Homo sapiens: one gene and its partner. The protein of the gene in region 2 interacts with the protein of the main gene of each other region in a pairwise test. Each region holds a gene or a part of one and is shown on either strand. Other genes may lie near its edges.

Region 1 (7,605 bases), about 29 Mb from region 2:
AACAAGCAACAGGAGGAGGGTGCCATACACTGTTTTGTTGTGCTCCAGTGTACAAAGCCCCCTCAAGGTTGTCTTTCCATAGCTGAGATTTAAATCCCATTAATGAAATATTAGTTTTATCGTACACACTAACCTCTCCGGAATTCTGGGTGACAGGTGCTTATGTGCACACACGGTTAACTGAAGGAAATTCATCAGTGGTTTTACTCCTGTTTTACCCAGCATCTATTCTGCTTAATTCAATTTAGTTGGATGGTGCTGCAGATAAATGCTGTAGAAATAAAATACTCTTCCATTTCTGCCTCCATTTATGGAGTACATCCAAACTGCTTTGCAAAGTCAGAAAGGATGTATTTGATAACATTTTATAGCTGAAGACAATGAGGCTCAGAAAAGCAAAGCAACTTGTGCATGGTCACTCTGAAACTAAGTACAAAGCCACAACTTAAATCCCTGTTTATGGACTCAACTACCTCAAATAAGCAACACTGTTTTCCCAAAAGCCAGTGTGTGAGGCAGAACATAATTGTCAGACTATAAAAATGATGACCGGGCACGGTGGCTCACGCCTGTAATCCCAGCACTTTGGGAGGCCGAGGCAGGCAGATCTCCAGAGGTCGGGAGTTCCAGACCAGCCTGATCAACATGGAAAAACACCGTCTCTACTAAAAATACAAAATCAGCTGGGTGTGGTGGTGCATGCCTGTAATCTCAGCTACTTGGAGGCTGGGGCAGGAAAATCGCTTGAACCTGGGAGGCAGAGGTTGCTGTGAGCCGAGATCGCGCCATTGCACTCCAGCCTGGGCAACGAGCGAAACTCCGTCTCGAAAAAAATAAAACAAAATAAAAAATAAAATAGAGAAGAATATAAAAATGATTCTTTGTAACAGGAAAGAAAAGGGGGGGGGGGTCTTATAAATCTAAAAAAACACTCAAAAGAAAAGTGCAAAGAAGAAATACATAGGGGAAAACACAGGAAAAGGAGAAACCAGAGGCTAATGTCAGCTAGGTCCTGTTCTGCAAGGAGAGATGGCAGAACCTGAGTCTGGGAGAGGGGGTCCTGAGCCGGAATCTAAAAACAGAGCTGAGAAAGGAAGAGAGAGCAAGTGAACACACCTGGCCACCGCACCCTGTGTAGCCTGGCCTGCCCTCCTTACCTGCCATGAAACCAGTCCTGGCACATGTCACACTCGATCATGAAGCGGGTCACATCGTAAGGCAGCCGGCAGAGGCAATACACCGGCACCGAGGCCATCTTCGCTCGGCCCTGGAGCGTTCTGCGGCCGGCCAGGTTCGTCGTGTCAAGAGGGGCGGGAGGCGGCAGCACGCGTCCTCTCTGGACGATAGCTAGGCACAAATAACACTTTTTACAGAGTGAATCAGCCCCCGCCCCCCACCCCCTTGCACCAACCCTCAGTTCTCCAATAGAGTTACCGCCGCCGGGATGCAACACAGCTGGTGCGGCTGTAGGGGGCAACCAGAGAAAGTCCACCCGGCCCTTAGAATTTCTTTCACACGTAAAGAACGGAGCTCAACCTTCCAGGCTTCCCACCGCCCCCACACTCTCCACTCCCCACCCCCCACCTTCTTCGGCCCCGTTGTCAGTGATAACTTCTTTCCGGGTTTCAAGAAAATACCTGAAGCCTTTTCGGGAAGCTTCTTTCATCTCTCACTGAACCCTCCCCTAGCTGACCCCTGTTTCACAGGGCTCCCTCTATTATGACGCAAACCACAGCGTCAAAAATGAGGCTGGGGGTATCTCAAGACAAGACCCTCCTCTCACCACCTGAAATAGGGCCAACCAGAGAGAGATAAGGGATCCCTGAAAGTCTCTTCAGGTTACTCAAAGCCTTCACGAACAAGACAGACAAGACTAGGCGCCCAACTCAAATCACAGTTCTGGGGTCGTGTTCGGAGAGTTTAAATAATCCTTTCCATCACTCTCAATATCATTCCTTCCCCGACCAGTCAGGAGTCTCATCACCCCCAAAACTGAAATAAATATAAATCTCTAAACTGACCAGCTCGTTCTGTACTTTAAAGATGACAGGGTTCTGGCTGCATCCCTGAAACTCAAAAGGATCTATTCAAAACCCCTCAAACTGACTAGAATTTCCTCACACTCCCGAAACTAAGCAAGGATTCTTTTGCATCGCTCGGAAACTGGCAGCGTTTCCTTGCAGCCCCCCCTCAAACTGATGAGAGCTCCCTAGTCTCCCCAAATGTTCAGGTACCTCACAGTATATCCTAAAACTGACAGTAATAGCCTCGCAGCCCCCAAAACTTACAGGAATCTTAACGCTTCCCCAACTGACAGGAACCTCCTCACGCCCCAAACCTGACAAGAACGTCTTCAGTCCAGAATCCTACAGGGACCTCCTCATGCTTTGGGCTGCAAGGACTCCACGCCCGCGGAGCTCAGCCCCAGCGACACGCCGGCAGCCGGGCTAGCTCCGGGACTGCGAAGCGCCTCAGCGGAGGCTCGTCCGGTAGTTCCGGCCCCTACGGCGACGCGCGTCGAATTCTGGGATAGTCCCCGTACCGCCGGGAACCTCGCTCGCCTTCCCCTCGAGCCCCCCGCTGGGTCGCGCGGCGCCAGCCGCTCAACGGTGCTTCAGAGCAGCCTCCTCCACAACATTCCCCTCGGCCCGGCCGTTCGGGCCTACTGGAGACCGCGGCTTGGGCCTAGTCTGGCGGCCGCCCGGCGAACGGGCAAGTGGCGTCGTCGCTGGGCCGGCAGGAGATACTCGCGAGCAAACCAACGGGGAAAGAGATGAACCGGCCGCCACGTCCGAGGCACACGGCCCGAAAAGTCGCTGGGAGAAGCCCAGTGGCGGTGGTAGGCAATTCGGAGTAGTCAATAAAGTTTATTCAAAACAATGAGGAAGTTGAGGCGGAGAGGGGAGGAGAAATACGGGATAAACAGCTACCATGTTGAGAGTGGCGGCGCTACCCAGACAACCAAGGCGACCGCCATCTTATGAGGGCTGGACTCGCGAGGTGAGCGCGGCGGAGGCGGGGAACCGCGAGCCGCCGGCTCCCGGGTGACGTCATCGGGGGGGCGGGGCGCCACCTTGAGAAAGGAGGGCGGTTCTCAGCCACCTTTGGACCCGCTCGTCTCTTTAAGGTGCCCAATCGCCGCTGAAGACCTTGAGCCCAGAGGCGGAGAAGCCGCCATCTTAGGCGAGGCAGACGTTTGGCTCCATTTTGAGTGGGGCCCGAAACTTCCTAGCCTTCCCCCTCCTCCGGGCAAACAGGGAGTTCAGCTACCCCGACTCGCACACTCCTCCTCCCCAGCCTTCTCCTCCTATGAGAGGAGGTGAACTCGGTGACTCCAAACTACAAAATTAATAGGTGGCGGCGGGGGCGGGCTTCAGCCGGGGTAGAGGCGGAGTACTCACCGCGGCTCCTGTTCATTGAGCACCTTCGATAGGCTGGGCTCTTTCCCACGGTCTCTGCGTTGTTGGTTCTTCCCCCTGTGAAGGAAGCTCTGTGATTATCACCAAATGAAGGCAGGGGCTTCGAGAAGCCAAGTGACTTGAGTCCCGGAGCAGGGACGTTGAACCTTGTGCCCTGTGCTACCCGCGTTCTGTCCCCAGGCCCTCAGTGTAGTTCCTCTGTAAAGCTGCTGCCAACTCCACAACTCCCTCTGAACTCTTCTTTGACCCTACTGTTTCACTTCAGTTCAAATACAGTTCAAGGATTTGTTTGCACCTGTCCCACAATTTTCTGACTATAGCCTGAGGGGAGGGGAGAGGAGGGGGGATGAGAGGAAAGGCTGAGTTAGTGGAGCTTTGCTGAGTTAGTGGAGCTTCGTACATATGCTTCAAGATGGCCTAGGTTTTCTCAAACATTCTAGAAAATTCTCTAGGAGTTATCTTACTATTTCATTTTCTTAAAGGGTCCCATTGCTTTAAAAAGGAAATGTGTGCGTGCACACAATTTACTAACCAGTGATGGTGGGGTAGGCCCTGGGGATGCAATGGTGAAAACAGGGCCTCTGGAGTGGGAGGGCATCTGCCAGTGCAGGAAACAAAGTTGCGAGTAAACAATTGGAATAGAAGGCACAGTAAGCACACAAATACCACCTGCAAAATGACCTTTGCAAAATGCAACATGAAGCTACAAAAGAGCCTTACAAGCTGCTTGCAGCTGCTGTAAGAAAGACGGCAGGGGGACATGGACGATTAAGTTCACTTAAATAAACAAGCGAGAACATTGTACTCAAAAGGATCAACGTGTACAAATGCATGGAGGCACATAGAAAAATATTTACTAGAAGTTGAATATTGTTGGAACAAGGAAAACAGAAGAGAGATAGGTAGGAGGTCAAACAGTAAAGGGTCACAACATGAAAGATTGCGAAATGCAAAAGAGTTTAGATTGTATGCAGTTAGCAAAAAGAAAACACAGGTTTTTGAGCAGGGGTAGCTTAGTCTCATATTTGTGACTTACCCAGAGGATGGTTTAGGGTTTTTTTTTTTTTTTATGTTTGTTGTTTTAGAGACAAGGTCTCACTCTGTCAACTCAGGCTGGGCGGTCATAGCTCACTGCACCCTAGAACTCCTGGACTCAAGCGGTCCTTCCGCCAGAGCCTCATGAGTAACTGAGACTATAGGCGCACACCACCACACTCGGTTATTTTTTATTTTTTATAGAGCCCAGGCCTCGCTATATTGCTCAGGCTGGTCTCAAACTCCTGGTTTCAGATCCTCTAAAAGCGCTGGGATTACAGGCCTGAGCCACTGCACTGAAAGGTCCAGGTTTAATGGGACCTGAAGCTTATATGGTTTGGGGGAGGAAGGGTGAGACGTCTTTAAGAAAAAAATAGCCGGGCGCGGTGGCTCATGTCTGTAATCCTAGCACTTTGGGAGGCCGAGGCGGGCGGATCACAAGTTCAGGAGTTCGAGACCAGCCTGGCCAACATGGTGAAACGCCATATCTACTAAAAATAAAAATATTAGCCGTGTGTGGTGGCACATGCCTGCAGTCCCACGTACACAGGAGGCTGAGGCAGGAGAATCGCTTGAACACGGGAGGCGGAGGTTGCAGTGATCCGAGACTGTGTCATTGCAGTCCAGCCTGGGTGACAGAGCGAGACTCCATCTCAAAAAAAAAAAAAATGACTTATGAATACAAAATTAGGTTCAAAGGTAGGCAGTAAGAGTATTTCTACAAGCAATTCCTTCACCTGGGTAATAATTACGAAGAGAAGTGATACAAGGCACATGTAAATGTACCATGGGGCCGGGTGCAGATTGCATGTCTGTAATCCCAGCACTTTGGGAGGTCAGGATGGGAGGATCACTTGAGCCCAGGAGTTCAAGACCAGGCTGGGCAACATAGTGAAACCCTGTCTCTACAAAATAAAAATAAAATGAATTTTTAAATAACAAATATCCCATGAAACCCAACCTAAATATATCCCCCAAATCAACTTCCCCTTAGGTGGATCTCAAAAATGTCAGGCAGCTCCAACACCACCTAATGCAAGGGAAAGTATGGCCAGGCCCTCAGTGGAAAGGGACAGCACTTTGAACCAATTGTTGTTTAAATGTATTTTGTGAACTTTATAAAACACATCACCATGTGACCCTATGGAAAGTGACAGGTCCTGCAGTTTAAGATGTCTTAGCTTCACAAGGAGTCAGGAGGAATGAGGCTGTTTCACTAGTGTTGGGGGGAAAAAATTGGTCCAGGATAGTTTGGGAAAGGGTAGAAAAAGATGAGATAATTTGGATATTTTGGAGGTTGACTAGGCAGTGTTTGGAAACTGATAATAGCAGATGAGTGAGTGAAAGGGGTGTGAGTTCACTTCTGGGTTGAGTGTCAGCATAGATGACGGTGCCACTGAATGAACTGGGCTACGCAGAAGAGAAAACAGATTTGGTGGGGAGGAGACTAAATTTAATTTGGACTATGTTGAGTTCAGGTGTGTGTGGAACATTAATTCCCTCACCCAACAGTTCTTTATTAATCTACTATGCATCATGCACTGTGCTAGGTGCTGAGGATGTTGAGGTACCCCAGATAAGGCCCTGGCCTGCATGCAGCTGACAGTCTACTGGCGGAAACAGTCAATGATCAAATAAAATTTCATTAATATGTGAATTTCATTCACATATTTTCTTGAACACCTACTGTTAGGCACTGGGGATTTAGGGGTAAACAAAACAGACAAGTCCCCGCCCTCCTGTGACTCATTTCCAGCAAGGGAGACGGATAAAAAGTGAGGCAAATCAGAGAATTTCCAATTGAGGTGAGTGCTATCAGGAAAGTAAGACCAGTTATGAGATAGAGAATGATTTGAAAGGAAAGCAGTCTATTTTAGATAAGGTAGTCAAGGAAGGGTTCTCAGAGAAGGTGACAGGAGCTGAGACCTGAATAACAAAAAGAGCTAGCTAGGGACAAAGGCAAAAGGAATCAAAAGTGTTGGCCGGGTGTGGTGGCTCACGCCTGTAATCTCAGCACTTTGGGAGGCCGAGGCGGGTGGATCACGAGGTCAAGAGATCCAGACCATCCTGGCCAACATGGTGAAACCCCATCTCTACTAAAAATACAAAAAATTAGCTGGGTGTGGTGGCACGTGCCTGTAGTCCCAGCTACTCAGGAGGCTGAGGCAGGAGAATCGCGTGAACCCGGGAGGCAGAGCTTGCGGTGAGCCGAGATTGTGCCACTGCACTCCAGCCTGGGCGACAGAGCAAGACTCCATCTCAAAAAAAAAAAAAAAAGTGCTAAAGCCCTAAGATGGGGGCAAGAGGACTGGGTGGGCTACAGGTGGGGGTCAGGGTCTCCAAGCCTGAATTAGAGACCCTGTGTGTACCCTTAGGGAATAGACGATCTAATAAATTAACAAAACAAGGAGGCTGGAAAAGGTCAAACCCTAAGTGCTACATAGAGGTTTGAGCAACCTGTGTGGTGTGGGAACAAAGAGGCAGTCACAGTTAATTCAAACACATTCAGTGGGTGTGTGAGGAAAGGCTTCACAAGAGGTAGCATTGGACCTAGGTACAGTGGTTCCTACCCCGACTCCTAAAATTCCTCCCCAGTGTCCTTGAGAGGTGGGGAGTGGACAAAGGATATTAGGAAAGGCAAAGCTGCCAGGGGTCTGAACCAGAGGCAGTCAGATTTGCTGACAAAGCAAGTCTTGCCACTGCTAAGGATGGGAGGCAGCTGGCTGCTGCCCTGGAAATGTGTGGACTGGTCCAGTCTCAGAGGATGCAGCCCATGATGGGACCTGGCTGCCACAGCACCAGGCTGCCCTGGAAGCCTACCTCCCCCATCCCACCTCCATTTAACAGTTGTAAACATTTATTTTTAATAACACAGATTCAGTTCCATCCCATTGTAATGTAAATGCATTCCCATTATAAACATTCAAACAGCCAGGCTGAACTTTCCCCGTGACAGGGCATTTCAATGCCTGCTTACCTCTCTAGAGGGAACCTCAGCAGGATCTTTTCCAATTCATTTCTCTACATATATGTTATAGCTATTGAGGTAAAAAAAAAAAATGATGAGGGCTACAGTGAACTATAAAACACATGAGTGGAAAAGGGGGGATTGGGGGGAAACTTACATGAGGAAAAACAGGTGTCCTCTGAA
Region 2 (4,548 bases):
AGGAGGCGGCGCTCGGTGAGCCCAGGTGGGCTCATTTCTAACCCTGGAAATCCGGAATTGGCCCCGCGGGCCTGGAGCCAGACCCCTCAGGGAGGCGGTCGGGAAAGCTCGCGGGCGCTCCAAGGCGGTGGGCGTGGGGGTGGTGTCCGGTGGCCCCGGGCGGCTCCGGCCACAGCTAATGTCCCGGTGCTGTGTGCATGGGGTGGAAGCGTCACGTGGAGTAATTCGGTCGCCGCTTGGAGGCGGTGGCGCTGGCGTGGGTCCCAGGCTTGGGCATCGCCTTGCGCCGCGCGCCAGGGTCGTGGGTCGGGGGCTCCCTGAGGCCAGAGGCTACAGGGGCGCGGGGAAGACAGCTGGGGTCGCCGCGCCAGGATGTGGGGCTGCTGGCAGGTGACACCCGCCCGTGGAGCCGAAATCAACAGGCGGTCGCCCTTCACTCTCACCCGCAGGCGCTGGCCAGACGCGGGTAGCTGAGTCCCGCGCGGAAGGGCGGCCGCGGCGGCGCGGGTGGCCCGGGAGGCCGGCGAGCTAGGCCTGTTTCTTCAGGGCGCAGAAAGTCCCGGGCCAAGGAGCCGGAGGGAGATCTCAGAGCCTGCGGCGTGCGTCCGGGCAGCTGGAATCCCACCTTCTCCGTCTTTTTTTTCCTCCCCCCTCCCACCCTCCACCTTCCCTTCTTTTGCTCTCCTCTCCTTTTCTCCTTCCGCATTCTCTCCTGGGAGATAGTGTCATTGCAGCCCCTGGCCTTGGAATAAACCGTCCGTTTAAGCGAAACCACCGAATCCACGCCACTGGGCCGTGGGGCTTGAGGTCTCCACGCCGGCCTGTGGACCCCGGCCCGGCCCGGCCCCTCGGGGAATATCTGGACTCGGTCTTTTCCCCCCAGTCGGTTCCCTGCCCCAGGAAAGCCCTCTCTGCGGGGTCCAGCTTCCGCCCGCGCCCTCTGCCCACTTCCCCGCCGCGGCCCATCCGGGTCCCGTGGGTACCGCGCCCCTCAGCTGCCCCGGCGACAAGCGGCGGGAGACGCTGCCCGAGGCGCCGCGCACAGCTCCCGAGGCCATGACCGCGCTGTTTGCTCTCCCTGCAGGCTCTTTTCCACAATGGCCCCCCTGACCAGCGCGTCGACCGCGGCCGCGCTCCTGAGACAGCCCACACCCGCCGTGGAGGGCGCAGTGGCATCGGGCGCCCTGGCCGACCCGGCCACGGCGGCCGCAGACAGACGCGCCTCTAGCATAGCCGCGCTGAGGCTCAAGGCCAAGGAGCACGCGGCGCAGCTCACGCAGCTCAACATCCTGCCGGGCACCAGCACGGGCAAGGAGGTGTGCTAAAGGCTGCCCTCCACACCCGCGCCCCGCGCGCGCCCCGAAAGGTCACCTCACTCAGCACCACTCAAGACCAAATGGAAACAGAGGACCAGCACACTCCCGAGACGGCACTGAGAGAGCGCAGCCGCCTTCACAGCAGTCTGGATGCGGGCATGGCAGCCCTCGGCGCTCCGGGACGTGGCACCTCCTCGGCTGGCTGTCCACCCGCCCCTGCCCCTGCCCCTGCTACTGCCAACCTCGCTCCAACTCCAACATCCACTCTCTCTTGTTCTTACTTTCCTGAAAATATCGGGGAGGTTTTCTCCCCCAGACGCCTGATATTGAAGTAAAAAATTTAAAAAGCCCAACCTCTTCCTCCTGACACCCCACTTAGCCTTTCTTTTCTTTCTTTCTTTCTTTCTTTTTTTTTTTTAAATAGCATTTTGGCGCTCGAAGTTGATCTCCCCAGCGAGGGCCCCAGCGTGAAGCCAGGGCCCGGGAAGCAAATGCGAGCCTGTAAGATAGCTAACAGTGCACTTAAAGGAAAGGGGCGTCTTGTTCTTGTTCTCTTCTTTATCATACACCAACCAAGGTTTTTATATCAAACCAAAGGGAAATAATACTCTGCTAGAATATGGACTGTTGAAGTCACCAAACTGTGATTATTGATTCTGTACATACCATTGTTATTAAAAAAAAAAAAAAAAGAACAGAGCTTTGTATATTTGAAATGTTATAACGCAATTGCACTCAGCGTGGTATGGTAAAAGTTTGTCCTCCCGTAGATTCTTACTGTGTTGTAGATACGGTAGGGTTCCTAGACAAATATTTATGTACTCAAGCCCTTTATTTAACTTATTAACTGTAGAGGCTTCCGAAACCTTCAAGATAAAGGCAATGGTACAGTACTTTTGTGTAATGTGTAATTGTTACCACTTTTCCTTGCTATCTAGTGGAGAAGTGTCACGCTCAAAATAAAAAAATTATATGTTTAACAAAACGAAGTGTGAATGCTCCATACAGGCGCTGAGGGGACAGTAGAAGCCCCCACCCCCACCCCCCGGGAGTCAAGGGTGGGCTCCAGCGTCCAGGCATCTCCTGGGATTATCTGCACACGCGTTTTCCTGGCAGAGGCCCCTGGTTTGAATCCGATCCTCAAAGGGAACCGGATTTCCTACGAAGGTTAAGGACGCCGCCGCGGTACTTTCCACGCGCACCTGGGCTCTCCCGGGTCGTGTCACAGCGGGAGCTGGGGGTCCCGGGCCACGGAGGTGGGGTGGGTTCCAGGATGGGTGGGTGGATGGTGGGCGTTGTTGACGGTGGAGTCAGAAATTTGAAGCAAGCGGGAGTCTTGGCTCGGAAGGCGAAGGGAGCTGTTGGAAAGTGCCACGTAGCCAGGAAGTGAAGTGCGCAGTCCGAGATGACAGGTAATGGCGAGAGCGAGAAGCCCAGGCGCTCCCTTCCGAGGGGGCGGGCTCCACGGCATGTTCGCAGGGAGGAGGGAGTGTGTGTGTGTATTGTGTTGTGTGTGCGTGTGTGTGTGAGAGAGAGAGAGAGGGAGGGAGAGAGAGAGAAACATGCGGGAGCAGTAGTGATGGAAAGGCAGCGAGGGGTATCCAAATGGCAGATCTTAACTCGACAAATGTCATTACATCACTTATCCAGGCATTGGTAAATGTATACATTTAAAAAAATCTAAACAACTCAGATTTCGTGAGGAGACCCAAACAGATTTGCAATCCTTAACCACCTCGGCGCACGCCTCCCTCCTCGCGGCGGGGACCGCAGCTTCTCCCTCCCCCGGGCCCTGCCCGCGCCCCTCCGGGTGACCGCTTGGTGGAAGCCCGCCCGCGGGGGCTGGGTCTCGCCGACGCTCCCAGGGTGATGGGAAAGGGAAGAGAAGCTTAATTAGTTTCAATTTGCTGTAATTAGCGCGCCGGACCTTTGGGGAGAGGGGCAGGCGGGAGGGGTGCGGGGGTGCCGCGGCGTGACTACCGCGATTGCGGAGCTGGGGCCGGCAGCCCCGCCACGCCGCCGCCGCCGCCGGCCAGTCGGTCGCCGCGGGGGGCGCGGGTGCCTCTCTGGGCTGGGGCCGTCGGGCTCCGCGCGCGCCCTGGAGGAGGGGGGCCGGGTCCCCTCGCGGCCCAGGGCGCAAGTGTGCGCGGCCGAGGGGAGGGTGCAGGGTTGGGCAGAGGTCAGCGGCCTGCCAGGCGCTGTGCCCACCTGGGTGTGGGCAGCCCGCCCGGCAGCTTCGGCGCTGGAGCCCGCACGTCCCGGGCTCGCCTCCTATCCTGCACCCCCCTTCACCCCCAACTTCAATCCCCTCCTCTCCAACCCCGGGTCCAGACGCCCGGAGACCCCGCCCGCCCGAAACGTTGGAGAGCTCACGGAACCGGCTCGCCGGCTGGTGGCCGCTTCTGGCACTTGGGTCGTCGGGTGGATCACCGCCACCCAACGCTAGCCCTGGACTCACGGGGGCGGCACTCGCAAGAAGGGCCCCGGCCTGGGGTATGGGGAGCGGCCGCCAACTACCATTCCTACCACACACTCCGTTCCCGGGTTTAGTAGGCCCGGTGGGAACTTTCTAGGGCCTTACTGGAGGTCTGAGAGTCTAAAACCCTCAGACTCCACATCCACAGGCTCTCCCTGAGTGAAAGCCGCTTTCCTGGGGTGGTCAGGGCCGCTGGAGAGTTTGGGGAGGAGACGGGACTGCTGGAGAAGACTGAGGGAAAGGAGTTGGGTGTGTGTGTGTGTGTGTGTGTCTGTGTGTGTGTGTGTGTGTTGTGGTCGATATCAATTTTGCGTCGATTTTGCCTTTTTGTTTAGTAGGGCTTCTTTTCCCCCCTCTAGGCTGCTAGTTGGATGGTATACGAGAAACAGTACCATTCTTCCTGTTAATGAACTCTTTTTTAAGTCATTTTTTCTCATTTGACCCTTCCATGGAACAGAAGCAAATTGCGTGAAATTACCTCCAAGGATTACATTTATTACTGGCCAATGAGAACCCCTCGCCTTGTTTTACAAACTCTTAATCCTATGTCATTCTGATGCTGCAAACAAGCCCAGTCCTGGGCCTCCTATTCTTTCAACTTTCCCCAGCTGGAGGGACCTCATTCTGCACTTAATATTCCCCATAAATATCACACGCTAAAGACCCCCTGACTTCCAGCAAGTCCACATTAAACATGTGACATGTCACGCATGAAAAACTCTGAGTATCTTTTCAAAGCAGCATTAAAAGCAAAGA

What was found. Proteins that work in one complex are often made in the same cells at the same time.
Region 1: the proteins of ARX (region 2) and PHF8 interact in binary tests that used the Homo sapiens proteins (3 or more experiments, as listed by UniProt).

The regions. Positions count from the first base shown.
Region 1 is NC_000023.11:54,041,474-54,049,078, forward strand, and holds the start of PHF8 (histone lysine demethylase PHF8), read right to left. Parts: upstream 3,001-7,605; 5' UTR 2,289-3,000; exon of another isoform or gene 1,638-2,288; intron 1,348-1,637; coding exon of another isoform or gene 1,256-1,347; coding exon 1,158-1,255; intron 1-1,157. UniProt on the Homo sapiens protein: Histone lysine demethylase with selectivity for the di- and monomethyl states that plays a key role cell cycle progression, rDNA transcription and brain development.
Region 2 is NC_000023.11:25,001,447-25,005,994, reverse strand, and holds the end of ARX (homeobox protein ARX), read left to right. Parts: intron 1-1,084; coding exon 1,085-1,325; 3' UTR 1,326-2,301; downstream 2,302-4,548. UniProt on the Homo sapiens protein: Transcription factor. Binds to specific sequence motif 5'-TAATTA-3' in regulatory elements of target genes, such as histone demethylase KDM5C. Positively modulates transcription of KDM5C.